Linked DNA regions of Homo sapiens: all the other regions are linked to region 2. Evidence: fine-mapped expression QTL. A gene starts in region 2. Each other region holds a variant in brackets. All regions are shown on one strand. Distances are from middle to middle. Region 1 overlaps TMEM255B (transmembrane protein 255B). Region 2 holds the start of GAS6-AS1 (GAS6 antisense RNA 1). Region 3 overlaps GAS6 (growth arrest specific 6).

What was found. PIP is the estimated chance that this variant, and not a neighbour inherited with it, causes the effect. A credible set is the group of variants that fine-mapping cannot tell apart.
Region 1: its variant is the best candidate, but not a certain one, in a credible set for the expression of GAS6-AS1 in whole blood (INTERVAL, PIP 0.72).
Region 3: its variant is the best candidate, but not a certain one, in a credible set for the expression of GAS6-AS1 in left ventricle (GTEx, PIP 0.83).

The regions. Positions count from the first base shown.
Region 1 is chr13:113,761,395-113,769,049 of GRCh38, forward strand. TMEM255B (transmembrane protein 255B) reads left to right here. Exons shown (of 9, transcript NM_182614.4): 2 at 4,721-4,863. Among named protein-coding and RNA genes, the nearest start is that of TMEM255B, 6.0 kb to the left of the region's middle. The variant C/T (reference allele first, on the strand shown) is at 4,247.
Region 2 is chr13:113,810,855-113,818,509 of GRCh38, forward strand. GAS6-AS1 (GAS6 antisense RNA 1) reads left to right here and starts at 4,756. Exons shown (of 5, transcript NR_044995.2): 1 at 4,756-4,837. TMEM255B (transmembrane protein 255B) reads left to right here. Exons shown (of 9, transcript NM_182614.4): 9 at 882-6,141. The coding sequence ends at 1,049. It also overlaps LOC124903220. RefSeq lists enhancers at 4,640-4,709, 4,760-4,999, 5,060-5,179.
Region 3 is chr13:113,852,550-113,860,204 of GRCh38, forward strand. The region is part of intron 2 of GAS6 (growth arrest specific 6); the gene reads right to left. Among named protein-coding and RNA genes, the nearest start is that of GAS6, 7.7 kb to the right of the region's middle. RefSeq lists enhancers at 1-396, 397-896, 1,272-1,986, 1,987-2,700. The variant C/T (reference allele first, on the strand shown) is at 3,106.

The sequences.
Region 1 (7,655 bases), 49 kb before region 2:
TAAGGCTGGGGAAGGAGCCAGGAAGGGGAGAGCAGGTGGGATGGGAGAAGTGGGGGCTGGTGGGGAGTGACAAGGTGATATTCTGAGATATCCTAGATGGGCTGCACCTGGGGAAGACTAGAATTAGAAAAATCAGCGCACTTGATAGCAGAGAGGTAGCTGTTGGCCCCTTCAGCTTCACATCTCAGAACTCCTCCTTGCAACTCCAGTGGGAGAAATGCTGGTTAAGAATAGCCGCTACGCCGTCTTAAAGTTCACACCACCCTGATGATTAGCATATGCATTCCATTTACAAAAACCTATATGAGAGCCCACGTATCGTGTCTCACTGGACGCTTATCACAATCTCAAGAGGTGGGTGAGCAGGTGGTTCTCATGATTTCCATCCTACAGGTCAGGAGACTGAAGTGCCTTCATTCATTCCGTACCAGGAGATGTGTCTATGTCCTCATCTGAGCCCCGGGAACCGGCGACAAACAAGAGACAGAGCTCTTGGCTCTCATAGGGTTCTCTTCTCCCAGGCTCAGGGAGATTAAATGGCCGCCCAAGACCACACAATGGGTCTGGACAGACCCAGAATGGTTTGGGTCCAGTCCCTGTAAGCTGCCTCTGCAATAGAAACCTATTGGTAGATATTTTAATTAATAGTTGGGGCACTTAGGAGCACTTTAATTTTCACAGTGCGTGTAATAACAGTATTTCCGGGACAGGAAAAAAAAAAAAATCAAGGAAATTATTCAGGTGATTTTAATTATCTTTCTCCTAAGTGAAAGCCCCTTTCTCTTGAAAATCTGACCTTATAATTATCTCTTATGCTAATTATAAAGATATCCCACCTTCTTTTCTTGAGTTTATTTTTTTTCTCATTTTTATGCTGTGTCATGTATTTATAGAATGTGTTTAAGGTTGGGAGTCTTCTTTTTGTTATCTCTATTATATCTGGAGTCAAAATATCACCATTGTGTAATTGAATGAGATGATTTGCAACCATTGCTCCCAGTGCCCCATGTAAGTTCTACTGTCTTTCTAGACTTGTATAATCTAGGAATCTGTGATAGGAATGCTGATAAAAGGGTGGCTCATACCTTCTGCTTTTTATTTTGTAGCAGATGGGGGGGAAGTTAGACTCAGGAAAGAGGGGTAAACATAGCAAAGTTAGGTTGAAAATGGTTTGTAGGAGGATTTACGTGGTTTCAGAGGAGATGTGTCTAACTCTTCGCATAGTAATTAACAAGTCAGCATGTTACCGATTGACTTGACAAGGTCAGTTAGCCCAGTGGGTCTTGCTGGGCCCCCACTCTTCATGCCAAGGAACCGAGCAGAGCTTCCAGCTTTAAGAACCAGAATCCAGTCACAGGGTTCCTGACAGACGGACGCCCACAGGAGGCTGGGACAGGAGCCCCACGGAAGGTTCTACCTGTGGGTCGAAGCAGACGCTGAGTCATCTGGTTAACTATTTTGAGCATAATATTATATGCATGCAGTGCATTTAATTAAGAAAAATCGCACAACAAAATCCTTTGAGAAGGACAGCGTTTGTCTGATAATTTTCTCAAATACTTAGTCCCATAAAATTTAGTTTTAGAAATTGTATTGCTCTTAAAATACATTTAAACAGTCAAAAGATTGGAATGGGAGCCTAAGGAAAAGCAGGAAAGGCTGAAGCGGGAATTGTGTGAGTTGAAGGCACCTAGCATTTGGCTGCATTGGCAGGTGTTACATGGAGGCTGGTGAGGGTGACCTGGAGCCTCTGGTCATGATCAAATGAGATAAGGAAGTTAGGCTGCTCTGAAAATCGACACACAGCCCAATCCATAGATGGTGTTATTATCATCAATATGATTATTTTGTGTAATTCCACAATAGCTGTTTCATTAACTTCCAAAATGTGGAATTGCATATATTTTTAAATTTTGTGTCCATTTTTAAAAAGTTTACCTACCTTTCTAAAACGAATCAACCAGAACGGAGTTTCACCCACGGGAGGTGCCTGCCTTCCTCTTGCCCACTTGCTCCCAGCGTGGGTTTGCCGTTTCTCACCTCGACTTCCCGACAGAGACCCGGGATCTGTCGCCATCGCTCCTGTCTCTCGGGCAAACGACCGTGAACATATAACCTTTCAGGTTTTTAACAAATTGCAAGATTTCAGTGAAAAAATTACTATAAAGCATTGTGGTCCTAATTTAAGAAAAAAATGTTTTAAAAAGTACATAGTGCATTGAAAAAAGACCATAAGATTTTATGCCTACTTGTTAATTTAGGTTACCATGAATTTTATTTTCCCTTTTGCATTTTTCAGTACTTTATGAGTGTTCTACAAAAAATCACTCTGCTCTTCTGAGCAGCGTAAAAATCACACTTTCCAACATATACCCACTGTCTCCCTTTTCCTTGTAAGAATGTCGTTATCATCTTCCCAACCTTTTCCAGTCCAACGAGGGTTGGCTTTTAGTTCAGAAATACCATGAGAGACACAGGGAAGAACTGTGCGAGTTAGAGGTGGGGAGGAGGAAGGAAGCCTGAGGCTGAGAAGCGAGGGACTGAGAGGCGGAGCTGGAGGAGGCCTTGGGCCGTGTGTTCCGGCTGGCAGGTGCAGCGCCCATCCCCTCATGCAGGGCAGGTGTCGGGTGCCTGGGCCTCGGTCACTTGAGGGGAGTGTCCTCCCCATCCAAAGACAAGAAAGGACGTGCTCCATGCACACAGGAAGGCAGGTGTGGCCTGGGGTGGGATGGGCCGGGGCGTGGGCGTGGGACACGGGGACACGGGTTGGGGCTGGGGGAGCATGACTTTAACAGACACTGGGTGATGGATGTGTAGGTGCCAGGTCCTGGGCCGCCAGTGTGGCCTTGGGGCTCCTGGTGCTGTGCCCGCCCCTGCACCCACCTGCTTGTCACCCCTCTAGGTTTATTCAGTGTGACCCCTGCAGAAGCTGCCTTGGGGACCCGGAGGGCGCAGGTGTGGCCCTGGCTGCAGGGACCCCGAACCCCAGGGCGTGTTCCTGAGGCTGGGTGTGGGGATTGCTCCCTGGCCCGCACCGGGCTGCGGCCTCTGGTGTCTCAGGAGGGTGGCTTTCAGAAGGAGGGCCTCACTCCACACCAGTGGTGCTGGGCTGAGGGGTGCACTGTGCCATCACCAGGCCCCTCAGGGAAGGCTCTGCCCTCTGCCCGCTGCCTGTGGGTGACACATCCGGAGCGCCCTGTCCCCAGCCCTGCTTAAGTTTTCTCCACTGAACTTGGCCTTTTCCAATGCCTGCAGCGTGTGCCTCTGTCTGTCTGGTGTCCCCTCTGCCTCTCACATGCGAGGATGCTCTGCAGGGGCAGGGGTGAAGGGGCAACTGTGGAGAGCACAGGGGTGAGTGTGGCTACTATACTCAGTGTGTCTATGCAGCAACATGTAAGAGAGGCCTTCAGGGAGTGCTGCGAGTGTCTAGCTGGAGACAGCAGGTACAAAGGCCCTGTGGATGCTGCAACAAGCCTGCCTCTAAGGAGGCAGGAGATGGGGCAACCAGGGAGAGGCTGAAACCACTGCCTGCGGCCTGGAGTATAACACTAAGGACAGTGCCACTGGCCGCCTCGGTGCAGTGGGTCCAAGACGGGGGCAGCCTGGCTGGCTGGTGGGAGCCGATGGTTTATTACATTGGCGAATGGAGTGATCTGGTCCCCTCCAAGGTGGAAGGTAAAAAGCGATTTAGGATGAGATTCTTGGGACAAGTGTATCTTTGCAAGGGTCAAGAGGCAGGCAGGGTGCTGTGCCGGGGGCTGTGCTGAGTCCAAGAGGGCCTTGAAGGAAGGCCGTGACCAAGGCCACGCCCTTGCTGGGTCAGCTGGATAAAAATGACTCTCTCAGATCAGCAGAGCAATTCTGCATCTGCACATTGATTTATAGTTTTGTGAAACTCATTTCTGAGGATGTAACAATCCCTTCCTTGGGTGCGATAACCTTGCCTTGCCATTGAGCTCTGCTGATGGGATTGCAGAAGTGTAAATCTTCAGATGCGGACCTTCTAGGGTGTGGACAATGTCTGCACGGCCGTCATCGCTGCCAGCGGCTCTCCAGTGTGCGGTCTGCTTTCCCTGCACACACGCACTTACACATGTGCACACACACAAATGTTGATTTTCAAACTCTTGGAGTAGGAAGACCTTACCATGGTTTTTTAAATCCCCTATTTTGTTTGGAGTCACACAGGGATCAAGATGATTCAGTTTTCAAAAAATAAAGCAAAACAGATGGCACAGCTGGATGG[C/T]TGCTGTGTGCGTTCCTCTCTCCCTGCCCCTCCCCTGGTGGCAGCCCCCTCCCCCACTGGGTGTGGCTGGGATAGGCGGATAGAGAGGGTGTGTCTGTGAGCGAATGGTAATGATAAAACAGTAAACAAAAGATGCTCCTGTCCTCCTGGGGACACCAGGGGGAGAAAGTCAGATAGAGGAAGAGGCAGCCAATAGGAAGGAGTCCTTTCTAGTTTGCTTTCTTGAGTTCTGTGACAGTTAGAATTAGGTTTGGCCGCAAATACCAGGCTATCCAGTATAGTGGCTTATGGTCCAGAGATTTTATTCTGTTATCTAATGGAGGTTGGGGGTGGTCCCCTGAGGTGGGCCTGGAGGCAGGCGGGGATAGTGCATCCCAGGACCCCTGGGTAACGGAGCACGGCCCAGAGCCTGCTGGCCTGACGCCCTCCTGAGCCTGAGCCCTCACTGACAGGTCCTCGCCTTCCTCCCCACAGAAGGGCTTTCGAGGAGGAAGAAGACGTCGCTCTGGTTTGTGGGGTCTCTGCTGCTGGTGTCCGTCCTCATAGTCACCGTCGGGCTGGCTGCCACCACCAGGACGGAGAATGTGACCGTTGGGGGCTACTACCCAGGGATCATTGTGAGTGCGCCGGGCGGGCGGCCTGGGCCGGGGAGGGCAGGGTGGTGTGTGGCTCTCTCAGGGTGGAGTCCACGCCAGCTCACAGGGCTGGGGCTGAAGGTGGGGAGGCTTCGATCAGTGCTTGTGGTCGGCAGGGTTATGGCCCCCACAGACATGCACTTCCCAATCCCCAGGACCTGGGACAGTGGCAGGTCCAAGGCAGAGGGGAATTGGGGTTGAGGTCCAAGTTGATCTCAAAATAGGGCCAGGTGCCCTCCATTGTCTGGGTTGGCCCGATGTGGTCACAGGGTGACCAGAGGGCAGGAGGGGGGCCAGAGCCCGGCAACAGGAAATGTCCAAGGTGGAGGAGGGGCCAGGAGCCCAGGATGTCCAAAAAGGCCGGACAGAGCCTCCCCAAGCATCCTGGAAGGATTTTACCCTGAGGGACCAGGTCGACCACCATAGCCCATGGAAGGGGAAAGTAACTTTAAACGATTCCTACCAAGAAGCCGTGGGTCAAAGATCGTATTAGTGACGTGATCGCGTGGGAACGGCCAGAAGGTGGTGGTGCTGACCTCATCCACCCGTCAGGCCAGATTTTGAACAGTAAGGCGGCGAGGTAAATTGATGGTAACCTAATTGGCAAGAATTGGTCACCCAGATTCAAAAGTATCAAGGTTTTTTGAACTATGAAATTACATCCTCTGTCGTTAGTAAAAGAATTCTCCTAAGTGCCTGCATTCTGCACAGTGAACCTCTGTTGGAATGGCTTGGATCAGCTGCGATGCCCTTCACATGCCCCAGAGCCTGGTTGCTACGTCATAAAGTGCTAAAGCAAGATTTTAAAATGCGGCTTCTTCAATCTCATTACTCTCACCTAAAGTACTACCAAGATTGGTAATAATATTGATGACAATCAGCAAAGATGAAAGATTTTTGGCCCTAAGTATTTAGAAATATTTTACAAATACTGTTTATTTCACCATTATATTTTCCTTTGTTTATATCTTAGGGTGTGCCTTAGACATCTACACTATCTACCTGTGTATAGTTTATGAATAAACATATACAAATAGTATCTATGCAGAAAAAGCTTTATCAGTAAAATTGCAAGAGGCCAATGGTGTGGGGACCTTGGCCTCATGTGAGGGGCTTTTCTGCTTCCTGGGCAGAAAGGGGAGCCCAGAGGGCAAGTGGCTGTGAGGAGGGACCTCCAAGTGATTTGCGAAACATCAAGATCAGCCTTGAGTGGTTGTTTTTTTTGGTTTGTCCTCAAGCTTATTTAAGAGCTGCCTCAGAATAACATAATGAAAAACATCAATGGCTAATGCCCAAGCTATGCTCTGTAAAGAATCTACCTTCTGGGCAATGAATTAATGCTGTGCTGACCAGATTGAAATGGCCTGTAGTACAGACAGTTCTGAAAGCAAACTAGGGAGACAACAAATAAAAGCAGCTTCAAGGAAACGTGGCTAAGAGTCACTTCTGTGGAGACTTTCTGCCAATGTAGAGACTTAAGAAGCTGATCTCAGAAGAAGCGGCCAGAACGTGAAAACATCTCCACATTTTCAAGAAAGGTGTGGTTTTTTTCAAATCCCCAAAAAATAAAACGTAGTGTAACAGATGTATTTTAATACATGTATATCGAAGTGAAATTTTGATATTTTTGACGTGTGGAGTTGAACTGCAGTATTTTGAAGCTCAGCACATGAAGAAATATTCCTGTTATCCCTGGAGAATTCTCAAACCGTTGGTGAAAGCCACATGTGTACGTGTCTATCACCACAGACACACAGACAATTACAGAAAAGGCAAAACTATTTACATAAAGAAGTCCGGTTTCCAGTGCATTAAACTTGACACCACGGCCCCAGCAACTCCAAGGCTGTGCCGGGCGGGCCACCCCTTCCAACAGACACTCACTGGGAAGTGCGACCGGCCCGGCGCACCTGCGTGGGAGCAAGAGCCGTCTTAGGCCTCGGCACGGTCGTTGGCAGGTCCATGTTGGCTGCTCTGAGCCAGATTTTCGGTGGGTGTTGCTGAAATGCATGTTCTTCACACTGATTTTAAAAATTCCTCTGCCAGGTGGGCGTCACCTGCCAGGACGGGCCCTGGGTGGAGGGTGCGGATGCCCGGCCGGTGGCCTCTGTTCTAAGACAGCACAGTCCCATGTCTATTTCCCGACATCCCAGTATCATTTTCTGCCCAGAGCTGGGGCTTCCTGTGGAGTAAGGGGGCTCTGCCGGACCCCTGGTGGCCTGTGCTGCAGCCCGGGGCCCCCTCTGTGCCTGGCCCAGGTGCCCCCTCTGTGCCTGGCTCAGGTGCCCTTTCCCCACACCTGGCACCTCCCTGCTAACGGTCTGCCCTGCTCACTCTCCCGAAGCAGCAACCAGAGTTAGGCCGTCTGAGCAGGGGTCACTGGTGGCCCTTGTGCCTGGCAACCCTTCTTTTGAAACACGGCTGTAGTTCCCTAATACCTTACCCAGGAGCCATGCTCAGGGGCATCTCAGGCCTGGAGAAGACGGGACAGATGGTGGTGCTTGGTGGCCCTGGGTTCCCGAAAAGATGTTGTCTCTGGGGGAGGAGTGGGAACTTCTCTTACCCCAGAGTCACAAGCCAAACAGATGCATCATTAAAAACCTCTGAGCAGAGAAGACAGGACAGGTGATGTTGCAGAGATGCCTGCCCAACGCCAGCAGACGCACCTGCTGCTCAGTGGTTGAGGTTCTTGAGGTAGGGATGTCTGGCCTTCGTCCCTGGATAAAATGCCTTTGAGGGCGGGATTATTTGCTTTAAATGTCAGTGTTAAGCTT
Region 2 (7,655 bases):
GCTGGACGTGTGGACGTGTGGGGTTCATACGTGGGGCCTTTCCCAAATATGAAGAGTTGGGTGAGCCCAGGGGCCCCAGGCCTGGTGGACCCTAACTGTTGGTTTTGGAGTCAGGTCAGAGGCTCGCTGGCTGTGAGGAAGTGGGATGTGGTCTGAGGACACCCTTCCTGGGGCGTCCACCCCCTGCCCCATGCAGCTGTGGAGGCCAAGGTTGTGCCAGTGAGGCCCCGGCCACCCTCTCCTGTTCTGCCCCGGGCTGGGGCTGCTCCTTCTGGTGGCCCTGGGTCTGTGGGGTGGGGGCCCGTGAGAGTGGTCCTGGGTCTGTGGGGTGGGGGCCAGTGAGAGAGGTCCTGGATCTGTGGGGGGGGCCGGTGAGAGAGGTCCTGGGTCTGTGGGGTGGGGGCCCGTGACAGTGGTCCTGGGTCTGTGGGGGCCCGTGAGAGTGGGCCTGGGCCTGTGGGGGGGCCGGTGAGAGTGGTCCTGGGTCTGTGGGGTGGGGGCCGGTGAGAGAGGTCCTGGGTCTGCGGTGGGGGAGGGGGACGTAAGAGTGGCCCTGGGTCTCCGGGGGAGGGGAGGGGCGTGAGAGTGGCCCTGGGTCTGTGGGAGCCCGTGTGAATAGCCCTGGGTCTGTGGGGGGCCCGTGTGAATAGCCCTGGGTCTGCGGGGGGCCCTGTGTGAGTGGCCCTAGGTCTGAGGGGGCCTGTGTGAATAGCCCTGGGTCTGCGGGGGGCCCATGTGAATGGCCCTGAGTCTGCGGGTGGCCCTGGGTTGGCGGGGTGGGTGGGGAGCGTGTGAGTGGCCCTGGTATATGTCAGGCTTCCCTGTGGTCCGGCACGGGGTGGTCTCACCTGCTAACCCAGGGCCCTCTCTGTTTATTGCAGCCCTGCAGCCGCTTCCCAGTTGCGCCCTCCTCTGCCCTGGCTTCGTCTGAGGACCTGCAGCCCCCTTCTCCAAGCAGCTCTGGCTCTGGGCTTCCCGGCCAGGCTCCACCGTGCTACGCACCCACCTACTTTCCCCCGGGGGAGAAGCCACCCCCCTACGCACCCTGATAGAGGCGTGGAGTAAAAGATAACTTGTTTGTTTTTTTTTTTAAAAAAAAGGCAGCCTCTAGAAATCCCGCTTCTGTGGCCAACCTCCTAGAGAACCCGGGAGAATGTTCCAGAAGTCTGTCCCCTCCTTTCCTCCCTGGGCACACTGGTGAGGGAGGCTGGAACCAGGCAGGGAGTGGGGCCCTCCAGACCCAGGCTGGTGACACCTTGGCTTGGGCTCTGCTCACATCAAATGGCGCTGAAAGTTCCCACCCGGCCTCCTCCTCTGAGAGCAATTGTTCTGGTGTTTTCACATCCCTTAATTAATTAGCTATTATTATGATTTTGCAAAGACAGTGCAGCCCCGGCCTCCCTGCCTGTGTGTTCTTGTTTGTGGACATGTGTTGTGCGTTACACGTTCGTGTGTGCATCTGTGTCCTGGAGAAGCGCAGGGCAGAAGCCACCCGCCCCTCGTGCTGTGCTCCTGACGTATGCCAGGAAGGGAAGGACGCTTCGGCTCCAACGCCCAGCGCTGTGTCTAACCGCCTGTGAGTTGTTAGAATCCAGGGGCCCGGTTGTCTTTCCCAGCCCCGGATGCAAATCTGCCTGGGCCACTGGCACGAGGGTCTTCCCCTGAGCTGTCTCCCAGCTACGGCGCCTGGGCTTCCGCTGTCCTTCCGCGGCTTCTCCCTCACCGCACCTTGTCTCAGGACCCCTGGCCGCTGGGATGGTGGGGGACGGTGTTTCGGGGTCCTTTGGCTCAGGGTCTGGGGCCGCAGCACTCCCTGTGGAAACCAGCTTAGCTCCCCGCGGGCCCAGCATGCACCTGCCGGGCACACCTGGGGAGACGGGTGAGCACGCCTGGGAAGCAGCAGGTCCCGGGTGGGTCACAGGCCCCGGGTGGGTCACAGGACAGGTCTCAGGTGGGTCACAGGTCCTGAGTGGGTCACAGGTCCCGGGTGGGTCACAGGCATCCCGGGTGGGTCACAGGTCCCGAGTGGGTCACAGGCCCCGGGTGAGTCACAGGCCCCGGGTGAGTCACGGGTCCCGGGTGGGTCACGGGTCCCGGGTGGGTCACGGGCCCCGGGTGGGTCACGGGTCCCGGGTGGGTCACGGGTCCCGAGTGGGTCACGGGTCCCGGGTGGGTCACAGGCGCCCCAGTGACAGGAGTTCAGGATGCGCCACCCCAAAGTAGCCGAAGTCTCTTGAAAAGTGTTGGATGTGGGGAGAGGCTTTCTCTGAACTCCTGAAGTCAGATCCTCAGGGAACCAGGGACTCCCAGGGCGGGAGGGCGGGCGAGAGGTGATCCCATTGCTCCCCAGACGTGCCACAAGACACCAAGTCGCCGTCTCTGCTCTGTGGGCCGCTCACGGTTCCCCAGTCACTCCCTCTCCCCTCGGAAGCTGGCGCCTCCAGGCCTCACCGCTCTCAGGGCCTCACGTCCCTCCCTGCAAAGCCCCCCGTGCCTACGATAAACAAGTACCGCTCTTCTCCCGTGTGGGTCTGAGGTCTCCAGCTTACTTCACGGAACAGTGCCCACCTGGGAGGTGGAGCGGGGACTTTCTCCCCTGCCCAGTCCTGGATCTGGGAGAAAAAAGATAAGGTGGAGGGGAGCCACACTCGTGCAGACACAGCCTCCTGCCCCCTCTGCTGCCCGGGAGCCTCCCTCTGTCCGATGGAGGGTCTCACACAGCCTCTGCCCCCTCCGCTGCCCGGGAGCCTCCCTCTGCCCGACGGAGGGTCTCATCCTGTGTCCAGCGCTCCTGGGCAGAAGGCCCACAGCGCACATCCACACATGAACGGTGGCTGGCTGGGCCCAGGGGCCCTAACGGGCCTCTGAAAGGCCTGCAGCCAGCTCTGGTCTGTGAACCCGCCACTGCTTGTCATTTTTATCTTATAAAATCCAGCCTCACAAGCTTGCTGTCCAGGAGAATGTGGTCTTGGCCTCTCAGGGCTGACTGGCCTTGAACCAGTCCGGGAGGTCGGGCACGAGCCGGAGGTGCGGCGTCCTGTCTGGAAATCACCGCCCAGTTCCTCCAGGGCTGTGGGTGCCTGGCTCCGAGTAAGAAGCTGAACAAGCAGCAGAGACCAAGAGGTTTCTGGAGCGCCGGGAGATGCACTCACGAGCGCCTGTGGGGGAAGAAAAGTGTGCCACGGATTTCCCGAGTCCCCAGGGCTCTCACTTTACCTCAGGGAAGGCTCTATGGGCGCCGATGGTGCCGTGGTCTTGTGTGGGCGGTTCCTGGGCACCCTGGAGCTCGGGCTGTGCCCCCGAAGCTGCCTGGTGCAGGCACCAGCACCTCTTGGTGTCCTAGGGGTGCGAACAGCAGAGAAGCTGAACTGCAGGTCTGGGCAGGGAGTCTATGCCCCCTGGAGCTCTGGCCAGCAAAGTCACAGGAATAACCCTCCTTCCCCTCATGTCAGCCCTCGGTCGCAGGGTGCGGTGTGGGGGCATCAGAGTGCTTCCCCGAGGCTGCACTCACCAGCTTCCCCCAAACACAACATCGATCTTTCCCGACTTTTAATCTTGTCTAGAGTCAAAAGCTGTTCAAAAATATTCAACTCCAAGGTCAACAGTTTTGTTCTTGCCACAAAAATGTCCTTATCCTTTATCCCAGCCACAAAGAATGTGAACAATTTGACTCAAGGTTCGTGGTGGCTGGAGGGTCCCCCAGGTCCCAGGGCAGCTCCCACCTGGCGCAGGGCTCCGGCCAATGCCTGGCCTGCAGTGTGGGCGGCGGCTGCTCTCGAGGTGCACCTGTCTCATGTGGACGGATCCTGTCTGGGGCCACCAAGCTCTGCCAGCCTGAGTCACGGTCTGATGAACCCCCTCTCTGGGCTCCGCTGGGGCCTTCTGATCCCAGCCTCCTCTGCAGGGATGGGCTCCCAATCCCGCCCTCACTTGGTTCCCATGCACAGCCGAGGTCAGTGAGACCCTGGAGGCCGCGGGAGATGGGGTGGAGGGGATGGTGGGGCAGGGGGTGCTGGGGGGTTTGGGGGTGCTGTGGCCCCGGGGCAGGGGGTGCTGGGGGGTTTGGGGTGCTGTGGCCCCACCTGCACTCCCTGCCTCACTGGGACAGCACAGGAGACAGGCTTCTCCTGCAGCTCAGAGGTGGGGGCCTAGTGTAGCTGCAGGTTGTGACTGAGGAGGGCAGGGTCAGAGCATTGCCCTGGGCAGGGGTCCGTTGAGACTGGCCCCACCTTATTAGCTTGGGACCTTGGGTTACAGGGAGTCTCCTCCTGCCTCAGTTTCTACATTTCACACAGCAGCACTGCTCACAAGAGCTCCCAAGCAGAGGCAACTACTGAGTGGGGGAGGGACACAGTCCGTCCACATGGGGCCAACGGCCACAAAGAGAGGAAGGGACATGGGTGACGGTCCGTCCACGTGGGGTCACCGGCCACGGAGAGAGGAAGGGACATGGGTGACGGTCCGTCCACGTGGGGTCACCGGCCACGGAGAGAGGAAGGGACATGGGTGACGGTCCGTCCACATGGGGTCACCGGCCACGGAGAGAGGAAGGGACATGGGTGATATGGTTTTGCTGTGTCCCCACCCAAATCTCAACTTGAATTGTATTTCCCAGAATTCCTGCGCGTTGTGGGAGGGACCCAGCGGGAGGTAATTGAATCATGGTGGCTGGTCTTTCCCGTGCTATTCTCGTGATAGTGAGTAAGTCTCACGAGATCTGACTGGTTGATCAGGATTTCCGCTTTTGCTTCTTCCTCATTTTCTCTTGCTCCTGCCGTGTAAGAAGTGCCTTTTGCCTCCCACCGTGATTCTGAGGCCTCCCCAACCATGTGCAATTGTAAGTCCCGTTAAACCTCTTTTTTTCCCAGTCTCGGGTATGTCCTTATTAGCAGTGTGAAAACAGAATACTACAGTGGTCCATCCACACGCGGGTCTCACCCAGCCACAGAGAGGGAGAGGACGTGGCCCATCCACACGCGGGTCACCCGGCCACGGAGAGGAAGGAAGCTCTAACGGGTGCTGAGGCTGTAACACACAGTGCTCAGGGAAGGACACCAGACATGAAGACTGTGTTCTGTTTATATGCAGTGTCCAGAGAAGGCGTGTCCACAGACAGAAGCCGACTGGGAAAGGAGGTGCAGTCACTGCTCAGGGACACGGGTTCTTTTCGGGGAGGCAAGCGTGTTCGCAGCGTGTTCTGTATGGGGAGAGATGCAGTCACTGCTCAGGGACACGGGTTCTTTTCGGGGAGGCAAGCGTGTTTGCAGCGTGTTCTGGATGGGGAGAGGTGCAGTTACTGGTCAGGGACACGAGTTCTTTTCGGGGAGGCAAGCGTGTTTGCAGCGTGTTCTGGATGGGGAGAGGTGCAGTCACTGGTCAGGGATACGAGTTCTTTTCGGGGAGGCAAGTGTGTTCTAAGCGTGTTCTGGATGGGGAGAGGTGCAGTCACTGGTCAGGGACACGAGTTCTTGTGGGAAGAGGAGTGTCCGGGAGCCAGATGGCAGTGATGGGTGGACGGCCCCGTGGATGGACTGACCACCGACCCATGCTCTGCACTCATGAGGCGTGGCTATTGCTGTGTGAATCACATCTCCATGGAAACGGGAGTGGGAGAAACGGGCCCCAAGGATGTTGTGAAGATGGCCTTATGGGGCTGCACTGGTGACTTGGACAGTGCTGGCCACCGGCCCTGCTCAGTGAACAAGAGCCATGGTCATCACCCTCGCCACACAGAGCAGCTCCTCCTGCAGACTTGGGGACCCCGTGGCCACCAGACCCCGCGGTGGGAGCAGAGATGCCTCCGAAACTCTGGAGACCCACAGAGGCAGAAGAGGATTCCACGAGGCCGGGGCCCGTCAGCAGATCCTCAGACGGCGACACGCGCCACTTCCTTTTCTGTTTCCTAGACCTTTTAACTGATGGAATTCAGTAAGCAGAAAACGTGCTTGAAACAAGGGCACCATGGAGCGGACCCTCCCCCTCTCCCCTCGTGGAGTCCTTGACCCTGGGGCAGGTGACCCTTCTTGCTTTGCAGGCAGGGGCTGTGGCTGGAGCTTCTCCTACAAATGGGCTGTGCTGGGATTAGCCCGGCTGTACATTTGCTTTATGCTTCCGTTGGCATTTAAAAATCTGATGTTCATATTTGCCGTATTACGTGAAGTAGGACGAAACGTTCCTTCTTGCTTAGAGCAGTGTTTCCCCAGAGGTGCCCGGGCCCAGGGGACAGTGGCCAACCTCTGGAGACATTTCGTGTTGTCATGAGGCTGGGTGTCCAGGAGGGGGCGATGCTGCATCTGCTGTGCACAGGACGCGGCCACATCAAAGGACCCCACCTGCAAAACACATGCCCAACCTCCTTCCTCCTCTCCAGCCCAGAGTCAGGGCTGTCCCCCCTCCCTCCAGGGGACACATCCCCCCTCCCTCCACGGGATACATCCCCCCTCCCTCCACGGGACACATCCCTCCTCCCCCCACGGGACACATCCCCCCTCCCCCCACGGGACACATCCCCCCTCCCTCCAGGGGACACATCCCCCCTCCCTCCACGGGACACATCCCCCCTCCCTCCACGGGACACATCCCCCCTCCCTCCAGGGAACACATCCCCCCTCCCTCCAGGGGGCACATCCCCCCTCCCTCCACGGGGCACATCACCCCTCCCTCCAGGGGGCACATCCCTCCTCCCTCCAGGGCGCACATCCCTCCTCCCTCTAAGGGGCACATCCCTCCTGCCTCCCCAGGGCACCAGCACTTGCACCACGTGCTCTGTCTTCCCATCCTCTTGCACACCCCAGACATGCCTGGTTGTGGAGGGTGCCAGGTCGCCAACGTGACAGGCCTGGCTGGGCCTCTGTGTTGCAATTCCTAGCACCATTGGTTTTGCTTGTTTGGGACAGTGGTTATTATAACTTCTGGCACCCCCGGAACTCTAAGAAAACAATACTAGGAAACAGAAGTTCCTGATTCGTCTGGAGGCAGAGCAGAAACCCAGGCGGAGGGTTGTGTCCTGAGGACACTGGTGACTGTAGCCTGTGTCTGTGGGGGCCTCCCCACGTCTCTGTCCCTGAGACTGGCCGTTGCCTGTTTTTGCTCCTGGCCGTCTTGACTTGGGGAGGATGGAGGTTGGGCAGGAGCAGGCTCCCAGCCGGCTGGGGAACATTATGGGAGAGCACTGGGGGGCACCCACCAATGTGATCTGACGGACGCCGCAGTGCCGGGCTGGAGGCCGGGATCTGAGGGACGCCGCGGTGCCGGGCTGGAGGCCGGGATCTGAGGGACGCTGCGGTGCCGGGCTGGGATCTGACGGACACCGCGGTGCCGGGCTGGAGGCCGGGATCTGAGGGACGCCGCGGTGCCGGGCTGGAGCCTGGGATCCCAGCGTGCGGCTGTGGCCCCTGTGGCCGTGTGAGGCCGTGCAGTGGGCAGTGCAGGGCTCTCCTGGGGCCCAGGGGGCTGTGTTCCACGGGCTTCTTGGAGCTCTGCTCAGCTGGCTCTGGCATCGTCGGGGTCAGACGAGTTGGCCTGCTTAGCGAGCCGTCAGCATCCACGCCTGGGCCTCCCAGAACTGGGCTTCTGTGCTGATGGCCAGATCCGAGCCCTGGGCCCGACCATCCTCAGCCCAACCAGCACCTGGACATCCCGGAGCCAGCGTGGAG
Region 3 (7,655 bases), 42 kb after region 2:
TGCCACCTCCGGACCCTGGCATCCGCCTCTGCTGCCTTTGCTCTGCTCAGGAGGGCAGTGGGTGCCGGCAGAATCCATGGGAATTGGTGCAGTGTCACAAAGACCCAAGTCCACCTCCGCCCCTGCCCTGCCCACCACCAGACCCAGGTCTCCCCCGCTCAAAGCCACCCACAGGGCAAAGGTCAAGCATGGCAGGGAGCTGCACACAGGGTTCCCAGGATGGGTCGGCCTCGGGGACCAGGCTGTAGCCTGGCCACCCATGCGGCAACCCTACCAGCAGGGCACTGCGGTTCTCACGCCCCAACCCCCAAATGACCTTTAACCTGGTGACAGGCTTCCTCACCCAGAGCTGTGGTTCAGAACAAGGTGGGGTGACCTCCCCATGCCACCGCAGGAATCAGGCAGCACCCAGCACGTGAAGAGACCCTCCAAGGGGCCGGGGGGACTCTTCCCCTAGGCCTGCTCTGGGGCCCCTGCCTACCTGCCTGCAGCTTGGTGAGGGTTTCCAGTGGTCTCTCGATCCAACTAGACCCTGGGAGGGCCCATTCACTTTTTAAAAATGGCCAAAACCTCCATGCGGTGATGGCACACAACACAGTGCATTAACAAGACAGGAAACACTTTTGGGCCCAAAGTGCACTGAACTGGAAGCACCTCACGCAGCCTAAAGTCAGTTTGGAAGGTTCCAGAACATTTCCTAAACACCTTCATCTCTGAATACACTTTAACTCCTTGGGTCCCAGCAAGGTCTCTGCCTGGTGGTGAGGGGCAGCCAGGGGATTAAGGGCACGGCCCGACCTGACGCTCACTCATCCTTGGGCCACAGTCCCCGCAGAGCTGCAGTGAGGATCAGAGGTCAGTGAACGTGGAGAACCTTCTGCAAACACCCGATGTCAGTCCTGCATAAATCTTTTTGTGTGAGTTTCATCTGCATTCATACAGCAAATAGTGGTTATTTTTCAGAGTGTGCTAAGAATGTATTACTCTCTTTAGCAAATAACAGCCATAAATTTTGTTTCCAAAAATCTTTATCTTACTTGACAAGTGGGTGGAGACTGCTGAGCACAGGGACTCTGTTTATCAACACCATAACTTTCTCTGATATTTTCCATGGGAAATGGTCACAAGAATTCACTAACCCTTTGACCATAGTGCTGTCTTCCAAGAACTTGACTTCTATGAGAAAACTCAGAGTAACGCCCACAGGAACTGCCCTTGGGGAGCCTTCCTTTCTCAGCATTTGCAGACTCTCTGAAGAGCCGCCGTCTTACAGACCCTTGGCCTGGCAGCCCGGCTCTATTCATGTTCTTCTAGCTTGGGAAGTGCAAAATCCTTTCCTTCCTTCCGAATTCGTTTCCTAAGTCTTCACACCCGCAGCAGCCTGCTCTAGCCCTGAGCAAAGTGGAAGTGCTGATCCCACTGCCCACAGGAGGCAGTGCATGGCCCCCAGCCCAGAGGACCCCAGGCTGACCTGGAGGGAGACAGGCCCCAGGAAAGCACAGTCAGTATACCCGGCATGCCCATCTGCACCCAGGGTCAGCGGTGACAGGTGCCTCTGCCCTCCTCCAAGCTCACACCCAGGTGCGCCCTCCCTTGCTGGGAGCCCTCTTCCTGGGAGCTCATCCTGGTGTGACTGCCCGGTCAGATGTGGATGCTGGGAAAGGCCTCTGTAGCTGACTGCACAGCTGTGAGCACCCTCCATGCCTCACAGCACCGACGTGGTGCCTGACCCGGTGGGTAACCAAGCTCTTCTCACAGAAGCCCCGAGACACACATCAGTGTCTCTCATGGGCTTCATGGCAAACGAGACAGAGGAGCTCGAGTGGCTTCCAGCAGCTGCACGGCGGTAACGCCGAGACTCGCCCCGCATGGCAGTGACGCCGAGACTCCCCCTGCATGGAAGTCATGCTGAGACTCAACCCTGCACGGCAGTAATGCTGAGACTCACTCTGCCCGTCTCTGCCCCAAACACAGAGCATGCTCCCGACAGCCCCCAGCAGGGTGTCCTGTGGTGCACAACATTCAGCATGTGAGCGTGGACGCAGGGAAGGAACAGAGCTGCAGCCCCCACAGGCCCTGAGCCAGCACAGGCTCTCATCGAGGAAGGCCCGCTGTCTTTCAGGGCAAGCCCCACCGAGGGCTGCCTGCTTTGAAGTGCAGAGCAGTGACTGTCTCTGGCCATTTGGCAGCATCCTTGCGGGCCCTGAGAGAAGCCAGTCAGGAAGCCACACAGCTGTTGGATGGGAGGGATGCTGGCCACAAGAAACACTACAAGGAGAGAGGCCCAGGACACGCCACTGTTTGCACGTGGTGGGCAGAAGGGAGCCTGGGAAAGTGCTGACTAAAGACAGGCCAGTCTGTGGGGGAGCAGAGGGCGGGGAGGAGGAAGGAAGAGGGTTCCTCCGTGCCCACCCCAGCCCCGGTGGCATCGCTGTCCTGGGAGCAGCCTCGTGCCCGCAACAGCTGCCGTGGAGAGGAAGTGGGATGTCTCACTGCAAATGCTTTGGGAAAAACAAGACAGTGTACTTTGTGATCATATAAAACAGCAAAATAAAATAGTCGTGGGCACAGGGCCAGTGATTCTGCAGTTAGAGCCGTGTGGACTCGGTCCCCATCTCCGGTGAGGGCGTCTCCTGCACACGGCACCCATGCTTCAGGTCGCACACACGTGCCTTGGACCCAAGTTCACCTTTGGAGGTGTCAATCCCCCCAAGAAGATGTGCTAACCTTGGAGTTTGGGGCCTAGGCTTCCATCAGAGTCTTCCCCACAGAAAGCGAACTGGGACTGGTCCCTCAATAAGCTACCGGCCTCTGTTCACAGCAGCACAGGATGAGGATGCCTGGGTCTTGCCAGCCACCACGTTCTATGATCCCAGGACAAACACGATTGCAAAGTTCATGTGTGTTCCCGGCTTACAAATGGGGAGGTTTATTTACGGCCTCTCCGGATCCACGGGGAGCTGCTCCATGGGACGCTGGACAGCTCAGTTCCCTTGAAAGGATGGCTGCACCATCGAGCATGACTCAACCCAAAGATCCAACGCGCAGGGGCCTGGCAGGGACAGCTGTGCTTGGGACGCCGGTGTGCCACTGCCGCTTCTGCGC[C/T]GGGAGTCACGCCCCGGCCTCTCCCACTGGGCTCCCAGCCTGAGCTCTGCCCAGCTGGTGTAAGGACAGTAAAGGCAACCAGATGCCCTGACTGCGACCACCACCAATAGTCGCCAAGAGTGCACGCAAGCAGAAATCACAGATGCCCTGGCAGCTGCCTGAGGGACAGGCTTCTCCTCCAGCTTTATCCAAGTTGAGCTGGTCTTCGGCCAGACGACCAAGCTCAGGCCCCAAATTCACCTGGGTTGCTCTGAGGACTGGTGAGACTTAAAGGTCACTTGGACTCCTCCAGTGGCCGGGACACATGTCTCTCTAGTGGACTGGTTGCCTTCCGTGTTGTGAGGACCGGCCAGGCCTGCAGGTTGGTGCCTTCCTCTGGCCTCACTGAGCAGCAACACTCAAGTTCAAACACAAAACCACCATTTATGGTGGAGCCATGGGCTCTGTAGCCCAGCATGACGCACCTGGCAGACCATGTTCACGAGACTAATGCTCCGAGCCACTGACACACACCCAGCTCCCCGCAGCCGCCCTGTGCTTTATGCGCCCACACCAGCACCACTCAGCCCTCACATGGGTGCCAGTATGCTCACAGTCGCCTGCACACAGAGGAGCACACAGTGGGGCCGGGGGTGCTGCCGCGTCCTGCTCTCCCCCAGTCCCAGCGAGCACAGGAGTTAATGACAGAGTGTGGGGCTCAAATGCCCAGGACACACTGTAGCCCTCCACAGCCTCTCAGGGCCTCAGTTTCCACATCTGTAAAATGGCTCAGTGACAGCTGTTACACAGTTGTCATGAGGATGTAACAACTTCACACATGGAGACCCCGAGAACAGCACTCTCAGGAGGACCCGTGCACGATTCATCTTTCAGACTAACAGACGAGCTGAGCGACGGACGAGCTAAGTGATGGATCTGAGAACGGGAGTGATCGGGAAGTGAACAGTTTCATCATCTGCTGCTGCTATTCAATTGTCAGGGTTGAAATAAACGGAAAGCCAGCCTGCCCGTAAACACTGTCATGTATTTCCCACAAGTGTAAAAAGGAAGTGAACAGTATCTTCCAGGTGTGGTGGAGACAGTCCAGACACACCCAAAGCCCACTGCGCCTCCCTGAGAGCTCCCGCGTCCGGGCTGCCCTCATTTGGAGTGGGCAGGAATGCCACACCGCAGCCCTCTCTGCTTCTGCAGGGACGGTCAACTTAGCAATTCAGAAAAGAAACAATGTTGACTCAGAGAGTGGCCTTACTGTACTGTGGACAGTTGGTCCTGGATGGGAGCCAGTCCCAGCCTGGCCGAACGTTTGGCCTTTTTATGCTGAGAATCCAGCCACTGCAGTGACCGGCCCAGGCTCTCTGAGGGCTGGCTGGGTCAAGCTGTGTGTTTTCCATGGAGCCCCAAGTTCCAAGGGGAGGTAGTCACAAAACAGGGTCTAGCAGGTTTGTGGACAGATGTGGAGAAAATGTATTTTCTTATCATAGGCACTAACACTGGAAGGAAAAAAATTTCACCTATAATTTGAAAACGGAGCCCCAGAAAATTAGTAGAACATTAACAAGGCCCAATGCACTTTACTATTTCTTTTGAATATTATACTTTTAATCAACACCCGTCAGTCAGAGCAGAGAGTGCCTCTGTCAGAGTGAAAGGCAAAACTGATACTGTTCTTAACTTATTCCACTTCCAGCTCCCCTTTAAAATTTATTTTAAAACTTTTAAAATGAACCTTTCACTTGGCCAGGGTCAAAATTTACAAGGCGTACACACCAGGTTTGCAGTGAAATCACTGGAATATAAAAACCATGGAAGAGTCCAGAGCATTTCCAACATCAAATACGAAACCCTTAAACAAGCAGCTTTGCATTGGAGAAACAGCTCTCAGTTTTAACCTTAGAAAACAGGGGAAAATGAAGCATGAGGAAACCTGGATGCCTGTCAATCGCTCTGGGGTAAAGCCATAACCTGGGAAGTGCTCAGCATGCCCCAGCTAGCAAGCTTAACGCCCCTTTACTCAGAATCTCAAGAAAGAAGCCATAAGCACTTGCTTCCTAAAAGAGTGTTTTGTTCCTAAATAACAAAGGGAGACGTTCAGCGTTTCTCAAAACGTCTTTAATTAGAGTTTTCCACAGATGTGAAGCTCTCCGGCTCGGGTGAGGGTGTCGTGTGCAGGGCCTGGCACTCGGCTGCCTCTGAGAAAGCCCCGGAGGAGCCTGGCACCAAGTGCCTGCAGACGCCCGGGTGAAAACAAGCATCTGCACAGGTGCGGGCACAGGAGAGGGCTGCGGAGCCAGCACGGAAGACGGCCCTCAGAGGAGGCCGGGCCGGGGTCCACCTGCAGGCCTCAGGATGGGCCCAGGAGGAAAGGCCTTGGCCACAGGGCTCCGGCCCCTCAGGCAGGGGGCTCTGGGAGTGGAGAGACCCTGGGGGTCTGAGGAAGCTGGGGCCACAGAGCCCCGTGACCTTGTGTCACTTTTTAGTGATCCTGCTGCAGCTGTCAGTGGTCTTCTGACCCCAAAGTTGTAGAAAGAGAAAAGTGTGTGAGAGGGTGCACATGTGTCTGTGTGTGTCTGCATGCATGTGGCTGGGCATCCATGTGTGCCTGTGTGTGTATATGTGTCTATTTATGTGACTGTGTGTACATGTGTGCATATTATGCATGTGTGTACATGTCTGTCAGTGTATGACTGTGTACGTATGTCTATGTGAATGTGTGCATGTGTGTGCATGTCTGTCAGTGTGTGTGACTGTGTGTTTACATATGTCTATGTGAATGTGTGCATGTGTACATGTCTGCTAGTATGTGCCTTTGTGTGTGCATGTCTGTGTGCCTATGTATGCATGTCTGTGTGTGACTATGTACATCTATGTGAATGTGTGCATGTCTGTGTACGTCTGCTAGTATGTGCCTTTGTGTGTGCATGTCTGTGTGTGACTGTGTACGTATGTGTACATGTCTGTGTGTGCCTATGTATGCATGTCTGTGTGTTTGTGACTGTATGTGTACATGTCTGTGTGTGCCTATGTATGCATGTCTGTGTGTGTGACTGTGTATGTACATCTATGTGAATGTGTGCATGTATGTGTACATGTCTGTTAGTATGTGTGTGCGTGTCATTATGCATGTGTGTACATGTCTGTGACTGTATGTATGTCTATGTGAATGTGTGCATGTATGTGTACATGTCTGTTAGTATGTGTGTCATTATGCATGTGTGTACATGACTATGTAAGTCTATGTGAATGTGTGCATGTATGTGTACATGTCTGTTAGTATGTGTGTGCGTGTCATGCATGTGTGTACATGTCTGTGTGACTGTATGTCTATATGAATGTGTGCATGTATGTATACATGTCTGTTAGTATGTGTGCCTTGTATGTGCATGTCTGGACAGTGTGTGACTGTGTGTACGTATGTCTATGTGAATGTGTGCATGTATGTGTGTGCATGTCTGTCAGTGTGTGGCTGTGTGCTTACATATGTCTATGTGAATGTGTGCATGTATGTGTACATGTCTGCTAGTATGTGCCTTTGTGTGTGCATGTCTGTGTGTGTGACTGTGTACGTATGTGTACATGTCTGTGTGTGCCTATGTATGCATGTCTGTGTGACTGTGTAGGTACATCTATGTGAATGTGTGCATGTATGTGTACATGTCTGTTAGTATGTGTGTGCATGTCATTATGCATGTGTACATGTCTGTGTGACTGTATGTCTATGTGAATGTGTGCATGTATGTATACATGTCTGTTAGTATGTGTGTGCCTTGTATGTGCATGTCTGGACAGTGTGTGACTGTGTGTACGTATGTCTATGTGAATGTGTGCATGTATGTGTACATGTCTGTTAGTATGTGTGTGTGCCTGTTTATGTGTGTGCATGTCTGTCAGTGTGTGTGTGTACGTATATCTATGTGAATGTGTGCATACGTATGTACATGTCTGTTAGTATGTGTGTGCCTGTGTGTGTGCATGTATATCTGTGTCTATGGGAACATATGTACATGTGTGCATGTGTCTAGGTAGGGGTGTGTGTGTCCCTGCACACCTGTATCCATGAGTCAGCACCTATCTGTGCTGGTGTCCATGTGTGAATGTGTGTGCATGTGTCTGTGTGTGGGAGTGTGCTGCAGCCTCTGTCAAGGCAGGGCAGGGGAGGTCTCAGCCTGGCCATCACCTTCCCCACCAGGCGCCCCCACATTGTACAGCCCTCCCCTCCAACAGGGACCTCCCTTTAGGCCATCCCAACATCTGGGCCTGTGTCCCAGCCAAGTGGCTGTTCCCAAGTGGGGACTCAGAGGGGTTTTCATTTCCATAAAGGGTACCCCTTCCCCAGCTGTTCCCAAAGAATCCACAAGGTCAGGGAAAAGGTGCTTGGAGGGCACATGCAGTTCAGGATGAGCCAGCAAGTTTGAAAACGGATGCACCAACATCCCATGCGGAGAATTCCTCACCACCAGCAGTGGGGAGAAGAGAGAGACTGGGACAGAGAGAGAAACACAGAGGGAGACAAAGAAAGAGATGGGGGAAGGGAAACCTGGCCTCGGAGCACA